Linked DNA regions of Homo sapiens. The protein of the gene in region 1 purifies or fractionates together with the protein of each later gene. This does not show direct contact. Each region holds a gene or a part of one and is shown in the gene's direction. Other genes may lie near its edges. The genes, in order: NTRK2 and PAX5.

Region 1 (3,821 bases):
TAAAAACTATATAGACACTTCACGTCATTGTAAATTCTGAGCTGGCACGGTATAAATTAATGAGGTTTTACTCTATTTGGATTAGAATTTGGATGAGAAAAACATGAACATGCATGTGTGTAAGTGTATGTCTGACTTACACACGTGTAGACCCATGGCCATAGCTGGTATCAATATGCTGGTTAACACTCACTCATAGCACACATTCAGTGTGTGATTGCTGGAGTGAATGATTGAAATCATCAGCTGTAATCCTTTATCATTGTTAGTACAATCACTATGCCCAGTGGGTACTAAACTCATAATTTCTCATCATTTTGACCCACTCAGAAGCCTGAAGTCAATGTTATCTCCAAACATATGCAAGCACTTTCAACTGTATGTCCTTAAATCAGCACCTAACCCAAAATTCATTTGAGCATGGTGGAAGGAATGATGGGCCCTGGGTGTGGGGACCTGGGCTGGTGGGAGGAAGGTAAGTGTGGCCCCTGCCCCACTGTGGTCCTTGTAGTGGTTGGTTCATAGCACAGGTCTACAAGTGTGTGTATCTACACATGTATGGACCTTATTTTGTGTAATATATATATATGTACATTATATATATTATATATATATTATGTATATATATATGCATATGTATAATATATATAGGGTCTCCCCAAATTATATTTTAATTGAATTTTTATAGATGAAGTCACATATTAAAAACTTTTGTTTTCCAAAGACTATTTTAAGGAGGCCTGTGAGAGATATTTGGTAAAGCAAACAATTAAACTTTGCCCATTTAAATTTAGTAATATCACATTTCTCAGAGTGAGGGACATAGTCACAACATACATGTGCAGAGTTCAGCTGCACAGGTGCTCAGTTGAGAGGAATGTCACTGGTAACTGGAAATCTTTCCGTAAATTATGAAAGTGAATTGGGTCCTTTTATCGGCTTTGCTTCTTCCTAGGTAGTACTGTGGGAGGATTTACCTGAATACAAGTAAGGGGGTAATATCAGATTACCTGCTTTCTATTAAAAATATCCAAACTTGAGTTTTTTTCTCAGTTTCAGGTTAATATCTGTATGGTCACTAGGCTCTGAAAAATTGACCTTATCTGTCATAGTTTAGACAAAGAGCAGAAGCAATAAATTATAAATAATATTAACAACTGGCTGGGTGTGGTGGCTCACGCCTGTAATCCCAGCACTTTGGGAGGCCGAGGCGGGTGGATCACTTGAGATCAGGAGTTCAAGACCAGTCTGGGCAACATGATGAAACCCCGTCTCTACTAGAAATACTAATATTAGCCGGTCACGATGGCAGGCGCCTGTAATCCAAGCTACTCGGAAGGCTGAGGCATGAGAATCGCTTGAACCTGGGAGGCAGAGGTTGCAGTAAGCTGTGATCGTGCCACTGCACTCCAGCCTGGGTGGCAGAGTGAGAATCTGTCTAAAAAAACAAAAAACAAACTAAAAATATTAACAACCAAGATAACCAGTGCAGAGACCCCACTCAGAGGGTTTGTCTGTTCCCTGGCTACAATACCTTAGATTTTTTTCTCCTCTTGTTTGATGAACACATACAGTCAAGAAGCAGTGCCTGAGAGGGAAGGGCCACTGTATTAAACATCAGGATTCAAGATTCTTGTTCCAGATCTGCCTTGCTCAGTAACCTTGATGAGCTCACTTAACCTCATTGCACTTTGGTTTCTTCATCTGAAAAAAATGATGCTATTAGATCTCAAAGGTCTTTTCCAGTCCTTGATTTTGTAATTACCAAAGCCAGACTACATTAAAATGAACAGATGAAGCATTTTAAATACCCTCACTTAGGATAAGTACTCTGTTTAAAAATTCTACTTGATAATGTTTGTTTCCCCAAAGCATAAAGTGCTTTATATCTAAAGTTGAAATAATCCCTACTCTGTCCAGGCTTAGATTGGACCCCAAACATTTAAAAGATCTAAACATTGGCATCTAGGATCCTAGCAAAAATGGACAACACTATCATGAAATGTGATACTTTCAAAGAGTATTTACTATTGACAATCAGTAATAAATGTTGATTTGTTATATTTATAATAATTCATCATCAGCAGCAACATTTATTGCATTGATCAGTTTGATCTGTTTTCGAAGTTATGTGAGATCAGGGCTTCAGGCAAAATTTTAAAAGTCATTTTTGTTATTTAGGAAAGAAGTGCTATCAAAAAGTATTCATTATTTTATTATTTTGAGTTTTTTTGGTGATGAATCTGTATAATATCAAGATACAGATATTAGAAACCAAAGTCAACTTCAAATGAACTCTTTCCGCTGTCAGAAATCTCTTGGATCTGTTTGGAGCTGGTTTTCACTTATACTGAATAGATTTGAGAAATGACTGTAATGCAGGGGTCTTAAGTAGAACAGAGAAAGGAGTCTCTCTGAAGCTCTCTTTGGGGAGTTACATCCACCCTGATGATGATACAAAATACTGATGGATTCCAGAGTTTCTGATGATGTGTTTTTCTAAGCCAAACAATGGTTGAGTAAAATTCCCTATCAATGACACAGACATCTCGAGATGGGGAGAATTCTGAGCTTTCTGATGCTATTAACTCTCTCTTTTTCAATTTAGTTGCACCAACTATCACATTTCTCGAATCTCCAACCTCAGACCACCACTGGTGCATTCCATTCACTGTGAAAGGCAACCCCAAACCAGCGCTTCAGTGGTTCTATAACGGGGCAATATTGAATGAGTCCAAATACATCTGTACTAAAATACATGTTACCAATCACACGGAGTACCACGGCTGCCTCCAGCTGGATAATCCCACTCACATGAACAATGGGGACTACACTCTAATAGCCAAGAATGAGTATGGGAAGGATGAGAAACAGATTTCTGCTCACTTCATGGGCTGGCCTGGAATTGACGATGGTGAGTAACTGACACTTTTGTATGTGGGGAGAAGATAAAGTCTATCATTCACCTGTTGACAAAATCATGTATACAATAAGCCATCCCCCAACCTAGTGGCTTAAAACTCCATTATTTAGTGTTGCTCATGGATCCATAGGTCAGCGGAGTGGTTTTATTTTGCATGTATTTATTGTGGAATTCAGGGTCATGAAGCAGCAGCTACATAGGAGATGTGCCTGTTATGATAAGTGTGGAGTGAAAGAGGACAACTGCAACGATGTGAGGCTTCCTAAGGCCTAGATTCAGGGCTGGTGCACTGGACTGTCTCTTCAGCTTATCTGCCATTGGCCAAAGCAAGTCACAGGGCCAAAGCCAAGTTAAGGGGCAGGGAGTTGTACTCCTCCCAAGAAGGTGATGAGGAAATTAATAATTTTGAACAGTTATCTGATACACACTGGATTAATAACTACTCCAGGATGCTTGGGTATCTTATGAGAAAAGGGTTATTATTATTATTTCCATCACTGTTGCAAGTATTTAATGAGATTTTGTACCCACAATGGCAAAACCCATGCAAAACCGCAAGCGCAGGAACTGTGTATGGTTGGCTCGTGATGCATTTAAGATTTATTTTCTAGCCTCTTACCTAATTCAAAAAGGAGAATTCTGGTTTCTCATCCATGGATGAGAAATTAGTGTCTTGGACTGTTTTGCTTACCCGGGCTGACTGAGCTGAGTGATTCTTTTATTGGCTCCGGAGCTGTTTTCCTAGGAGTGGTAATAGTGCTTCTCTGGCCAAAGGCTAGGACTGCGGAAAGGATGGCTAGCATCAGGGGTCTACTCTGGGCACAGCAGGAGCGTGTCAGTGTGAGCTTCAGGAACAGTGGGACAAGTGTCATGCATTTACCTGCTTCAGATGCTGTCC
Region 2 (3,821 bases), about 48 Mb from region 1:
GAACGAGGAATGGAGAGAGCCGGTGTGGTTGTGGCTCAGGGATGGGCGGGCGATGATGCTGGGGAGGTGGGCCTGGTCTTGTAGACTGGGTTGAGGATTTTAGTCTTTCTCTTACAAGTCGAGTGACACCTCTGTTGGGTAGGACATGGTTATGGTGCTGGGCATAGCCGCCCCCACACACTCTAGATCTTGGACTTCAGGGAGGAGAGTCTGTTTCTATCACAAGCACCCTCTCTGCTCTGCTCAGAGCCCTTCTGAGAGACGGCAGAAGGCACATTTTCTCTGACACGGGAGGAGAGTGAGAGGGGCCTCGATCAGGAAACCTTCCTGGATGAGGCCTGTCCTTCCCTCCAGAATGTGGAAGAAAGTTTATCTTCTTTTTTTTTTTTTTTTTGTGAGCTGGAGTTTTGCTCTTGTTGCCCAGGTTGGAGTGCAGTAGTGTGATCCTAGCTCACTGCAACCTCCACCTCCTAGGTTCAAGTGATTCTCCTGCCTCAGCCTCCTGAGTAGCTGGGATTACAGGTGCCTGCCACCACGCCCGGCTAATTTTTTTGTATTTTTAGTAGAGATGGGGTTTCACCATGTTGGCCAGGCTTAGTCTTGGACTCCGGACCTCAGGTGATCCACCCTCCTTGGCCTCCCAAAGTGCTGGGATTATAGGTGTGAGCCACTGCGCCCAGCCAGAAGGTTTATCTTTTTTCTTTTTTTGAGACAGAATCTTGTTGTGTCGCCCAGGCTGGAGTGCAGTGGCGCGATCTCGGCTCACTGCAAGCTCCACCTCCCGGGTTCGCGCCTTTCTCCTGCCTCAGCCTCCCGAGTAGGACGGACTACAGGCACCCGCCACCATGCCCGGCTAATTTTTTCTATTTTTTAGTAGGGGCAGGGTTTCGCCGTGTTAGCCGGGATGGTCTTGATCTCCTGACCTCATGATCCGCCTGCCTCGGCCTCCCAAAGTGCTGGGATTACAGGCATGAGCCACTGCACCCGGCCAGAAAGTTTATCTTCTAATGGCTGACAAGATCATGTAATTTTAGGGGTAACAGGAGCCACAGAGGCAAGATTTCAACCTGTTGTTTTTTTAGAGGCCCAGAGAGAGGACAGGGCATGTCTGAGGTCACCCAGCAAGTGAACAGGGAAGAGCGGGGATCCAGGCCTCTGCACTCCACCTGGCCTCTGCAGCACAAGTGTTTCTGTGAACCCCTTATTCACACAGACACTCCGTGTGAGACTCCCTCTGTGTTTCACATGACCGTCATGGAGACTCAGAATCTGCACCATAACTCCTTTAGCTCAGAGTGCCCAGGAAGACCACGCAGCCTGCAAGACCTCATCCCTGAGTGGTCTGGAAGCCGCCCATGGATTCACTCACTCACCTGCTCACATGCCACTCCTCTAACTTCTTCCCTGAACGTGGGCTGGGAGCCAGGCACAGTGCCAAGTGCTCATCAGCTCTGTCCAGTCTCGCAGGGGCAGCGTGCTGTGGACTCAGAGCCCGCAGGACAAGAGAGACTGTTCAGAGGGTCCTGATGAGGTGTCAGCCAGAGAGGGGGATGTTACCTGGGTTGGGAGCATCAAGGACAATGGCACTGAGGGGGCAGTGTTGGATGGGGGGCTTGAAGGACAGGTCCCATGGGCTCATGGAGAGATGGGGTCTGATGGGGAGGAGACCTGATTACAAACTCTGTGAGGACTCAGCATCTCCAGTGTCCTTCAGAATGAGCAGGCACGTCTGCAGGCCTGTCTCTGACTGTGCGCTCTGAGACGGCGACTGCAGGCGAACTGTGTGGCAGGATAATGACTGACCCAGTGTTTTCTGGTTAATCTGCTTCACCTCCCTGTAATGTGTTTTAATGAGGAGAGATGGAAGGTGAGGAGACGGGGCTGCCCTGCACCCACACACAGGCACTGGACTATGAATGACATACCCTCGTGCCCGATTCCCAATCACTTTGGACAAATGATGCCTGAGCAAGGGGCCGCAGGCTGGGAAGGGATGTCAGTCAAGGGTACAGGTTCCTTGAGCCCCTCATGCTAGCTCTCCAAGAGGTGAATGTTCCACAGGCCTCGCCTGTGAGCCCCAGCGTGGCATGGCGGTGGTGACAGGAAGGGGGCCTGAGGTGCTGGCCGCGGAGGCTGGCTGCCTCTTCCATTTTCGAGCAGATTGAGCTGTCTCAGTGTGTGTCTCTGTGGCCTAGTGCCCTGGATGGGGGCCTTGCTGTCACTTTCGCTGAGCAGCTTGGTGGGGAACAAAGAGCACTTACTGGCCTTGGGGTCGGGAAGCTTGATTTGAGTCCTAGCTCTGCCCTGCCGAGCAAGTCACTATTTTTCTGGGCCTCAGTTTCCATATCTGTGGTAGAAGTGATCATGATTTTGATGACGACAACAACAAGAACAGCTGCAGCAGCCGAAACCGAACGTGACGACAGCGATCCTCCTCACCTACACACCACAGCGTTCAGTTCACAAAGACCGTTCACATCCATCCTCTCATTGGACCCCCGAGGCAAATGCCTGCCAAACAGGCTGGGCATGATTCGGGAGCCCCATTGTATAGACTAGAACATTTTTTTTCACAGATTGTTTATTCAAGGAGTTTCCAAGATTGTTGAACCGCAGAGCTGGAATCTCATCTCAGGGTCTTCTGTCTTCATCTCATGCAAGATGGTTCCATGGGCCTCCAGGTCCAGGACGATTCCAGGGGCCAGTTTTCTGGCTAGCTGGTTTCCAGACCTGGCCTATTTCAGTCAGAGTCTGCCTGTCATCCAGAACTCTCAGAACTTGCCATAGGTTTGGAGAGGCCACATCCTCCCGGATCCTCCCACCCTGTCTCCCATGGGAAGAACATTCCTCATTGGGGCCAGGCAGGGGTCCTGACAGTTACTGCTGTTAGCTCGGAGCCTGCCCCACTTGCAGCTTTTCCCGCCAAGATCTACCTGGGTGGGTGGGCCCAGGCTGCTGGCTTTTGTAGGGAAATGTAGTAAACGCTTTGCCCTGGGTGGAAGGCGTTAATGTTGACCACGCCTGGGCAATGAAACACTTCCTTTTCAAAACGGTTATTGAAAAAGCAATTCTGTTTTCCCTACATATGGAGTGAGTAAAAATCACGTTGGAGGAAGAAAAGAAAAGAAAGCTGCTGGTGGCGAGTGTGTGTGCGTGCACGTGTGTATGTGCGTGCGTGTGTGTGTGTATGTTTCCAACAGTGGTATCTGTTTCAGTAAAACTCCCGTTGACGTTGTCGTCGGCGCAGCGCTCCTGTTGGGAGCGGGTCCCTCCTCCGGCGGCCACAGGAAGGCTACGGAGCATAGCCTGCCGTATTTACTCTCGGCAGACTATTAACCAACACCAGGCTATTAATCTGGCTTTTGAGCCTTCACTAAAGCCCATAAAAGCTCACAGTTGTCAAATGGAGTTCATTTTAATTTCCTTTCAATCACAGTAAATTATTCAGGTGATAAATCAGCTGGAGCAGCCTCCTGGCTGTAATAGAAACCCTAATTCCTGGCTAATTATCCATCCCATTGCTGCCAATAGATCAATACGGGTGCAAAATGGAACGGGCCAGGGCCCTCCCTCCCATTGGGCCAGAGACAGAGAGACAGCTGGGGAAGGGGATGTGCTGCTGACCTCCCAGGGAGTTCAAAGGTCACAGGAGGTTAAACTGGGAGAAGATCTGCCCCTTGTCTAACAGAGAAAACCACTAGAAATGCCTCCTGCTCTCATCAGCTGCTTTGCCCCCTCAGTGGTGGCACCTCTCCAGGCTGGTGGGCCGAACAGCATTGCCTTCTCCTGTGGGCATCCTGTTCCTGGGAAGGGGCTGGTTT

Evidence for each region.
Region 2: the proteins of NTRK2 (region 1) and PAX5 purify together in Homo sapiens (affinity purification with western blotting; one study listed by BioGRID). This does not show direct contact.

Annotation. Positions count from the first base shown.
Region 1 is NC_000009.12:84,725,046-84,728,866, forward strand, and holds part of NTRK2 (BDNF/NT-3 growth factors receptor isoform a precursor), read left to right. Parts: intron 1-2,608; coding exon 2,609-2,914; intron 2,915-3,821. UniProt on the Homo sapiens protein: Receptor tyrosine kinase involved in the development and the maturation of the central and the peripheral nervous systems through regulation of neuron survival, proliferation, migration, differentiation, and synapse formation and plasticity.
Region 2 is NC_000009.12:36,961,168-36,964,988, reverse strand, and holds part of PAX5 (paired box protein Pax-5), read left to right. Parts: intron 1-3,821. UniProt on the Homo sapiens protein: Transcription factor that plays an essential role in commitment of lymphoid progenitors to the B-lymphocyte lineage. Fulfills a dual role by repressing B-lineage inappropriate genes and simultaneously activating B-lineage-specific genes.